Linked DNA regions of Homo sapiens: region 1 is linked to region 2. Evidence: fine-mapped expression QTL. A gene starts in region 2. The other region holds a variant in brackets. All regions are shown on one strand. Distances are from middle to middle.

What was found. PIP is the estimated chance that this variant, and not a neighbour inherited with it, causes the effect. A credible set is the group of variants that fine-mapping cannot tell apart.
Region 1: its variant is the best candidate, but not a certain one, in a credible set for the expression of SPATA6L in aorta (GTEx, PIP 0.88).

What each region holds. Positions count from the first base shown.
Region 1 is chr9:4,058,309-4,063,695 of GRCh38, reverse strand. The region is part of intron 4 of GLIS3 (GLIS family zinc finger 3); the gene reads left to right. Among named protein-coding and RNA genes, the nearest start is that of GLIS3-AS1, 160 kb to the right of the region's middle. The variant C/AC (reference allele first, on the strand shown) is at 2,376.
Region 2 is chr9:4,663,203-4,668,589 of GRCh38, reverse strand. SPATA6L (spermatogenesis associated 6 like) reads left to right here and starts at 2,110. Exons shown (of 12, transcript NM_001353486.2): 1 at 2,110-2,378. The coding sequence starts at 2,340. PLPP6 (phospholipid phosphatase 6) reads right to left here. Exons shown (of 1, transcript NM_203453.5): 1 at 3,332-5,387. The coding sequence ends at 5,327. RefSeq lists silencers at 2,182-2,261, 2,272-2,321.

The DNA.
Region 1 (5,387 bases), 600 kb after region 2:
TCTCATTCGTTTTCTTGTTTGTCTTATTTAGGACCTTTTATACATTATTGAGTTCTAGTAGTGAGTTAATAGCAAATATGCAGTACTTCTGATTTTAGTGAATATGCTTTTAATACAACACCATTTTTTTTTTTTTAAATCATGAACTTGCATGGCTCTTACCAAGGGCTTTAAAAGCTCTATTGAGACAATCACCTGGTTGGTTTTCTTATTCTGTTAATGCGCTAAATTACATGAATAGATTTTTCAGATGTTTAATAATCATTCATTCCTAGGGTAAGCCACTCTTGGTGGTAGGATGTGGTTTCAATCTTGTTATGCTTTCCTGAACTGACAGGCCAAGCATATCATCCCCTTTGCAGTATGGTTTGTTACATACCCATAAAAAGTCTCTTCCATATTGAGTTATCCATCATATTACATGTTTTATAAAAGGTAAATTTCACTAAGTGGGGAATAAAAACACATATGAGTAATAAGTAAGAAAGGACACATCTCATACATTTTGCTTCTGGAATATTGTGAAATGTGCAAATCAAATCCCTAGGCAGACATAAGGTGGTGCTGACTCAGATGTACATTTTTCTTTGTGCATTGTTTTTTTTTGCAGATATGGAACTCAGTTTGCCATCTGTATATTAATCTGGTGAGATAAAGAGTCAAGAGAGTTTATTCCAAGTGTTTGGTCCATATAACAGCAATAAGAATTTGTGTCGTTTGCATACTGTGCTTCCTGTGTACTTCACATTCTTTCTTTTTTTTTTTTTGAAATGGAGTCTCGCTCAGTCACCCAGGCTGAAGTGTAGTGGCATGATCTCAGCTCACTGCAAGCTCCGCCTCCTGGGTTCATGCCATTCTCCTGCCTCAGCCTCCCAAGTAGCTGGGACTACAGGTGCCCGCCACCGTGCCTGGCTAATTTTTTTTGTATTTTTAGTAGAGATGGGGTTTCGCTGTGTTAGCCAGGATGGTCTCAATCTCCTGACCTTGTGATCCGCCCGCCTCGGCCTCCCGAAGTGCTGGGATTACAGGCGTGAGCCACTGTGCCTGGCCACTTCACATTCTTACATATGCTATTTCATCTTCACAGCAATTATGGGGTAGGCAGAAGAGTTATAATCCCATTTTATAGGTATGAAAATGAGGCTCAGAGAAAGTAAGTGCCTTAACCTAGATCATACAGCAAATATGTGATATGGTTGACACTAGTCCCTCAAGCCTCTTAATCCTAAACCCAGTATTCATTCTATCTCTGCCTTGGATATTTTGTATGATTAAAGCTAAGCCTTATATGTAGCAGCAACTGGGGTACAGAAGCAAAACGAGTTTAGAACCCCTTCTTTCCTTTTCTTTCCACCTCTCTCCCAATCCCACCAGTATTTTCAATATGGGAAACTGACAGTCGGTCCTCAAGGAACACCTTATACAACATCATGAAGATTTTCATTATGAAATGCCTTTCTCTCCTAAATTAGTCGCTAAGGCACAGGGGTAATGTATCATTTTAATATGACTGTGCATTTGTTGAGCTCCTTTGCGTCAAAGAACGCACAGTCCTTTACAGACATTAACTTTCACAACCTATGTACTTAGTGTGATTTGGCAAGGAAGTAATTCAGTCTTCATATTGTGGTAATGAAATTGTGTCCAGGAAAGATGCTGGGACAGCCTGAAATCTTGGGTAAATGAAGTGAGGACAAGGAGGATGAGGAGTCCTGCCACCTTCCCCATTTTTTATGCTCCCTTTTGCCATGTGACTTAAAGAAGCTCAGATCTCCTAGGCAGAGGAAGCTGTCTCAGGACACCCTGAACACTGATAAACCAGGAGGAGCACGGTAACATGTGCATTGACAGTTCTCATTTCTCACTTGTGGCATTCTTGCATAATTCTTCAGGGAGTATGTGCAGTACAAGCTTGCAGAAAGAATATCATACTGCTTTTTTTCTTTAGAAACATTTCAGGACGTCATGTTGTTGGCTATCATGAAGCTTTTGATAATTCAGATATTTTGCTGAACTTTCATTTGTACCCGAGACTCTAAAAAAGTATCAACATCTCATTTTTACACTAAACTGTGTTAATATATATCCTTTGTAGTTCAGTCTTTATAAGTGTCCAATTAAACCATTTTATGGCTATTTATATGAGGTTCCAAGTCTAGAATGGAAAGTCCTCCTTTTTATTCTCTTCTTATGTTGTGATGTAATGTTAACAGTTGATCCAAATGTCCATCCATGATAGACTGGATTAAGAAAATGTGGCACATATACACCATGGAATACTATGCAGCCATAAAAAAGGATGAGTTCATGTTTTGTAGGAACATGGATGAAGCTGGAAACCATCATTCTCAGCAAACTCTGGCAAGGACAAAAAA[C/AC]CAAACACCGCATGTTCTCACTCATAGGTGGGAATTGAACAGTTAGAACACTTGGACACAGGAAAGGGAACATCACACACCGGGGCCTGTCATGGGGTGGGGGGAGGGGGGAGGGATAGCATTAGGAGATATACCTAATGTAAATGACGAGTTAATGGGTGCAGCACACCAACATGGCACATGTATACATATGTAACAAACCTGCACGTTGTGCACATGTACCCTAGAACTTAAAGTGTAATAGTAAAAAAAAAAAATGGATCAGTAGCCATTATGAAGCAGATGATGCAGAAGTGTAACTGAACCAGAAGAACGGGGTATTGGAAGCATGCAAGAGATAGGCCAGAAAGTAGGAACTAGCAGGCAGGCTCTGAGTCTAGAAAATCCATGGGCAAAGTGGGAGTGGTGGCACATTCAAATGGTACCTGTGAGCAGAGTTGAGAATTTTGATTCCTGGGCAGAGGCTGGATGAACTACAGAGAAGAATAAATTAATATGTCACATGTCTTAGTCCATTTTTCTGTTGCTTATTAAAATAATCCCCAAAACTGGATAATTTAACAAGAAAAGGAACTTCTATCTTACAGTTGTGGAAGCTGAGGAATTCAAGGTTGAGAGGTTGCATCCAGTGAAGGCCTTCTTGTTGGTGGGGACTTCCTCAAGAGTTCTGAGGCACACAGGGTATCACCTGGCAACGGGTCTGAACGAACTAACTCAGGTCTCTCTTCTCTTCTCATAAAGCCACAAGTTATACTCTCATAATCACCCATTAATACATTAACCCATCATTCATGAGGGCAGAGCTGTCATGACCCAGTCACCTCTTAAGGCTCTACCTCTTAAGATACTGCCACACTGGGGATTAAGTTTCAACACGGGGGCAAATATTAAATCATAACACCACCTATTAGTGAGCTGGGAAGAAGTAAAGTTAGGTTCAGTTGAAAGGGATGACCACTGAAGGTGACGAGAAGCAGGCTGGCTAGAAGGAGAATCAGGAACCAGATTTGAGGTTCAAAAGACAATGTTTGTTGAATGGAAAGTTGAAGTAAAGACAGAAATGGGAGGTTTAGTCCATTAAATAGGCAGTTAGTCTTGAAGAACTGAGAGTAGTATGAAGTGAGATATGGGAATTCCACTGAGAGTTTCAGGGTAGGCTAGGATGTCCAAACTCAGAGCTTGCCTGAGACATCTTTCAGTAAAATGCTTGATATGCGCTACCAGGGCTACCAAATGGGCTCACATGAGTTGACCAGGTTGGCCAGGAACCTTGGGTTCCAGGAGGAAGGATGCATTCGGAATTCAACATGCCTTAAAAGTAGGGGTAAGGTTCTGATTCAACATGTGTAGAAAGTTGCAAGGAACCTTCACACCTGCCTTAAAAATGAGAGTAAAAAACAAAATCATAGATTTTTTTATTTTTTGAGCTAGTAGGAGAGCCAGTCTCTCTCTTTCTCTCTCTCTCTCTCTCTCTCTCTCTCTCTCTCTCTCACACACACACACACACACACACACAAATAAAGCTGAGTAAGTGACAAGCCCTTTCAGGAGAGAACAAGCTGAGGCCTGCTTTCATCCCTGGCAAAGTGCTGGCAAGAGGAGGAATCTATCATTGTCAGAGTGAGAAGAAAGTAGCCCAACTTAACTAATTTGGAATGGCCACATGTTGGCTGTTTAGAATAATAAGGATCTCCAACCACAAAGCAATCCCTGCACCAGTCTCCAGGTTATTCCCATGGATGTTCAAGTGCAGAAGGATGGTAGGCAGAAGGCCAAGAATAGGCTAGAAAAGCCAATAGTACTTCTCTCTAAGGTATTTGTGGTTTTTCCACAAAGCAAGGCAATGGCCTGTTACAGGCTGAGAACAGGGCAGGAGAGCTGAGAGAAATCCCATCATGGCACTCTGGCAGTTTTCTGTAGTCACTGTCTGAAGGATGAAAGCAGAGCAGCAGTGCAGAGATCTCCAGAGGTGCCAAAAACCAGGAGTGTAGTGGAGAACAAAGAGAATATTTTAATGACTTAAAAAGCAGCCTCCTGTGCTTTAAAGCTGAGAGAAATATTCCCTAGTTTGGAAAACTGACAGCTTAGCATAAAGCATAGAGAAAAAATGTCTGAAATCTCGTCTGTGCTCAGATCTCAAGACTTGCCAAAAGGTCAAGGCCTGATCCCACCCTCAAAATATTTAAGCCAGTGGTGATTTGAATCTGATTAAAGCTGCAGTAACACTCAGACCTAGATCAACTATAGATTAGATGACTCAGGGTCCCCTTCGTCAACTAGCAGCCTGACAGCAGAAGGTGTGAGGCCTTTTCTTTTTTTCTTTTTTTTTTTTTGTTTTTGAGATGGAGTCTTGCTCTGTGGCCCACGCTGGAGTGCAGTGGCGCAATCTTGGCTCACTGCAAGCTCCACCTCCTGGGTTCATTCCATTCTCCTGCCTCAGCCTCCTCAGTAGCTGGGATTACAGGCACCTGCCACCAAACCCGGCTAATTTTTTTGTATTTTTTAGTAGAGATGGGGTTTCACTGTGTTAGCCAGGATGGTCTCGATCTCCTGACCTCGTGATCCGCCCGCCTTGGCCTCCCAAAGTGCTGGGATTACAGGCTTGAGCTACCGCACTCTATGGTTCTTTTACACAAAATATTTGGCACAAAGTCAGTTATAAGACATAAGAAGGAGCAAGCAAATGTCGCTCTTGGCCAAGAGAGGAAATAGTCAATAGAAGTAGACACAGAGATGGCCCAATTTTGGAATTATTAGGCAGGGTTTAAAATTATTATGCTAAGTACATTCCAGGACTTATTGGAAAAAATAGATAACATGCAGGAATAGATGGGAAATTTGAGCAAAGAGATGGGAACTGTTTTTTTTTTTAAATAGGGGAAAGGAAATATGTCTCGGGAGTCTGGAAAGTCAAAGAGATCAGTAGGCAAAGAAAAACACTGTTGAATAGAGCTGTGATTTCTGAACCCAGAGCAGTATCTGCTTACTCTCTGCCATGCTTTTTTTTATGCC
Region 2 (5,387 bases):
AACTGCCACATCTCCACAGCAGCTGAGAGCCTCAGGTAACCATGGCGGGGACAATTAGGAGAGTGTGAAGTATCCCCATCAACTCATTTAATATCACCATAGCAGATTTGCAGAAGTAGCTGTGCCTGGTCCTTTCTAATTCTGCAGATTTCTTTTACCCATTGTGATGGGACCTCTCTTTATCCATGTACATTAACCCCCACAGATTGGCTTGACCATCTCTGCATTTAATATTCAAAAATATTTATTATCTTCTATCCTATTTAGGGTATAAACGCTTAGCCATGCAGAGTTTACAGATTAAGGAGACAAATAGTAATCAAGAGTCACAGGAACAAATGTAAAACTGCTATTATGGCAGTCGCTACAAAGAGGAGATATATATATTTATATGTATGACATAAGATATGATATTGAGATTCCACCTTGTCAGCAGAAGAGAGGTCTTGGTGGGGTATGTAAATCTGTATACATGTGTTAATCAATGTCTGCAATGGATGACACTCTAAGTAAAGGGTATAGAGTGAGGAAAGGAAAGGACCTAGAAACATTGCTTAGCCAGAGGAGGATAAACAGACAAAGAAAGAATAGCCAGAAAGTTGGAGGGAAACCAGAAGAGAGCTGTGCCCTAGCAGCCAAGCAAGGAGAGTCCAGTTAGATCAAGAGTTAAGACTAAGAAGAGCATAGAATGGAACATTGTGTCTCTAGAGATCAACAGGATGTCTATATTGCAGACCCAGTGATGTGGTAGGGCACACCTGGATTCAAATGTGGCTGCTCCCTTATTAGGTCTGTGGCTTTTAGTAAAAGGCTGTCTAGCTTCAGATTCTGCATCTGTAAAATAGGGATAATATCTCCCTGATAGAGTTATTGTAGGGTTGAGATGAATTAGCATACGCAATGTGCCTAGCACTTTGCAGATCCTCAGTAAAGACTGATTCTTCTCTCCCAATACAACTCTGGCTATTTATTAATTTGTTTTGCTTGTCACTCTCCTTGATTTCTTAGCATTGGTGTTGGTGACCTACCTGTTAGGATCATCACAGGTCCTGTCCCACATCACTCTGGGTGTCAGCAAGTTGTGAGTGACAAATCAATGATCTGGACACTATAGATAGTTAGGTGCCCACCTGTATCTCTTGATATGCAGAGAGACACAGCACTAGGAACTGGATAAGGATACAATATGCCCTTCTTCATCATACCAAGTTTTTCCCTTCCAGGGAAATAAACTCCAGTTACCAAAATGAATACCCAATCTTGTCTTGACCATCCTTCTGCACTATTTCCAATTGTATAACTCTCTAATGCAAAATATTAGTAATAAATGACTGAACATAATTTAGGATTTAAAATTTTTTTTTCAGAGGCAGCATTGGCCTTCCTAGATTTTTTGGATTGCTAGAAGGAGCCACTACCTGCTCCTTTCCTTCATTTTTCTCTATTAGATGTAGTGAATGTCCCCTACTCATTCAGAACTCTTGCTCTGCGCACCACCTCTGACAGTGTTTACAGTAACTGTGGTTTTGGCAAATGCAATAACTACCCATTGGACTACTCAATGCTTGCCTTAAACTAAACCCCAGAAAAGGCTGGACACCGTTATGGAAAGACTGACATATTTCTATTGCTGCTAACAGGGGATACCTAACTTTTAAATATGTTTAAGAATTAACCTTATATTTCTAATTAGCACACGTTTGTTATTGACGGTGGCCATGTTTTCCGAAGCAAACATAACATTTAATAAGCAAAAGAGTATTTTTAGGAACAGGCAACTATATTAAATGAGAATTGTTACAGAAACTACAAGGCTTGGGGTCGTGCAGCTACTAAACGTGTACTATTTAAATTATAACAGACCTATGATCTCATTCTACTTTCAGAATGAAAACGGTAAACATTCTGACATGGTAATTGGGGATAGCAGGAGCTGATGGAAAGAAGATCGGGATTGTTAGCATTTCTCTATCCGTCTAGCACGCCAGACAGGGCCAGTCTCTCCGGCTGGGGGCACTGCGTGGGCAACAGCGACCGTGAGGGCGCGCGTCTGCGCTGGGGCCTCGCGCGCGTTCCACGATGAAGACTGCGCGTTTGAGTGTCCCTGGCAACGCCACGCTTCCGCCTTCTGGAAGCCTGCACTCCAGCTTCGAGTGTGAGAGACCCGTCCCGGTGGGAGGGACCTGGGCTGGGGGGGACGGTAGGGGAACAAGGGCGTGGGACTGGGGAAGCTTCTGGGAACATTTGCTCTAGGTATTCAGCTAAACTAAGAAAAATTGGTCCAAGGCTCGGCACAAAAGGATCTTCTCATTCCAGTCCTTTCGCCCACGCAGGGAACGATGCCTCTGGAGGTGGTGGTGGAGCTGCAGATCCGGGCGGTAAGAGATCGATGAACTCCCCCTCCTTAACCTCAAGTCGGACTCTAAATAGTCTCAGGTGGTTTTCAACAACCCTCCCCCACATCCCCCACTTACCACAAACACATCATTATCTTCTGGGACAGATCGCACCTTTGTCTTTTTCTCCATATTGGTTTTCCCTGACTTCCTAACCTTTAATTCAGCTCCACCTGTTCCCACTTTTTTTTTTTTCTGTTCTAAAGCTAACATGTTTCTTATCTTTATCATGAATTTTTAATTTCTTTTCAAACAACCCTGCATTAAGTCCAGGTAGAATTTATTTTCTTCTCCTGGATAAAGATTTGTGAAAGGATTTTCAACTTCTTTAAATAACCAGGGAATAATTTTAAAAAGCTCCATCACTTCCTGATTATTTGCCAACTCTATGAACCAATCAGATATTTTCTATGATATTTCCCCTTAGTGATAGCTCTGGCTTGCTAATTCCAAAAGGGAAATCAATCAATCACTATTTCGTAATTACCAAATCCTTCCTAAGTGAAGTGCTGTGGCAGAGTGACTCCATGGTTTCTACTTGGGGGTCTGTCACTCCCTCTTATTTCAGTTTCCATTTTCCAATCCTTCCATGTAGTTAGTAACAGAATATCATGCCGCTTTTCCTCTAGGGGCTTTTCTACTGGCTATGATTACAAGCACAGTGCTAACAGGAAATTGTCATGGAATCTGGTTGTCTTCCATACAATTGGCAAATGGTGTGGTTTCATCATACATGTGGGTGTGAAAGGTGATCAACATTTCCTGGATTTGTCCCACTTTGCTGACAGCAAATAGGGCTAGACCTTATTAGTAGTGCTATACCAGTTTTAAGCTCTAAAAATTGTGCAGGAAGAAGGAACTCTTGAGAAGCTAAGTGATAAATCTGTCTCCCTCCTCATCAAGGCAAAAATTAAGCAAGTTTTCATCTCACTTCATTCACCATTATTTGTTAATTTTATTTTGATTTTTAAAAGGCATTATTCAGTGTACAATTAACAAAGAAATCAGTTTTCTACTCTACTGTACTTAGGATGCTTCAAAAACATCAGGTGAAATGATCTATGCTTTAAGAGCCAGAAAACTCAGGCCTCAGCAACTAAAACAGAGAATTCCAAAATTGTAATTACAAATCAGATGGTAAGCCTAATTTCATGCCCCTAATATTCAGATTTGTGGACACTGCAAGAGGAAATATCATTTGCTTCCAAATATCTGGCTTGAATATTGCTGCAGTTAAAGGATCTCGCTAAGGTTAAACAACAAACCCAAACCACTTAGAGCTTCACAGTTTAGCTGCTTTAGCAAGTGAAGAGGTAGTCGGTATTCAGGATGCTGTGGGAATGCAAATGATTTGATTTTGAGGCATGGCTGTTCCTTTTTCACTATGCCCCTCACTCTGAACAAGCTCATGCTTTCACTCAATCAAAACCTACTTATCACAGCCGTTCTCCAGGTTCCGAACCTCCGTATGGCAGATCAAAGTCCATAATCATTTCTATTTATAAATGCCAAAATAGTCATTAAGATTATCTGAGGACATCACTTCCATAGGTAATTTAAAGGATTTCTTTTCAGGTAGAGCAGCACTTAAAGCACATACCTTCTCCAGTCTTTCTGGGTCAAAGAATAATGAGCAGAGTCCACCCTGCGTTTGGTGGTCTTTGGTCTTATGATTTGGGGAGGCACCATGGATGAACAGCTTTAAATGTAAAGGTCAATGTAAACAGAAATTTTGGAGTTTTATCTTGTGCCTGGTATAGCAGCAGACTCCCATGATGAATTTCAAGTTAAATACTGTTACCTAAAATGTGCTGTACCTCAGAAAACGGAATTCCATGTGAAAAACTGTAGCATACAGGTATATACGAGAAAGCTTATGTTCTTGCATTGAGAAGACGTTCCTTTTCCCCACTTTATTACCCTGAAAGAGGAGCATTATTCTTTATTCAGTGGAGATGACTGGCAGCAGGGCCCCATCTCCTGTCATACTGGTCACTGGCATAATATGTGGTCAGCCTATTCCCAAACTTTCAGTTCCTCTAACTTTCCCCAGCAACTTAGTTTCTCTGCCCTCTCTCATGCCATGTTACGTTGTAAACAAAAATAAGCATGGGGCCATGTCCCATTCTTCCTCTTCTATGAGCATCTTAGATATGCCTACCTTTTAAGTGATTCCTCTTTAAGCAAGTTGGCTTTTTCTCTGAATGCTAAAAGACAGTAAGGGAGTAGTGGGAAATGCATAAAGATCTTTTGAGGGATGGAGGGAGAGGAGAGAAAGACAAGTATTATAATCTCTTTTCCCACTACCCGATCCACAAATATGGATAGAGATAATAAATTATAGAGATAATAAAGTAAAAAAGCTTACCAAGAAAATCAGGATTAAGAAGAAATCTCCCAACTGTGGCAACAGATCTTCAGGGAATAAACTAGAAAAACCTATGTCTTGGACTTTAAAAATACTGTTTAAAATCTACCTCAGGAAAAGGACTAGGATTAGTACATGACCTGTCTGCATGTATATTTACAGAATGAACATCATGTTTCTTTCTCGAAGTTCAGTTTACAAGTGGTATGTTGATTTAGGGATTATCACAAAACACAAATCTTACTGATACCAACTTTTAACAGCAACAGTATAACCACCTCAGCTTGTTTTCTTTGCAGTTGTCCTGGAAACATAAACAGTTGTTGAATAAATATACAATAGAGGATTTTTTGGGTTTTTTTGCTTTCCCTAATATGGCTGTGTTCAGTAATGGCCAGTGTGTGCTCCAGCCTAGCAGCACATCAAGATCATGGGACACCTGAAATCCCAAAGGAAGCCTGAAATGCCTAAGAGGGACAAGCGGGATGGCTGCTGGTTTAGGTTGACATCATCGAATGTGGAAACCTTCAGACTTCCTGGTGCCATAATCAATGAGATGGTGTCATCGTTGACTCCACAGTAAAAAGAGGACCGGAGCATTATGGGGTGAGAGCCAGCAATAG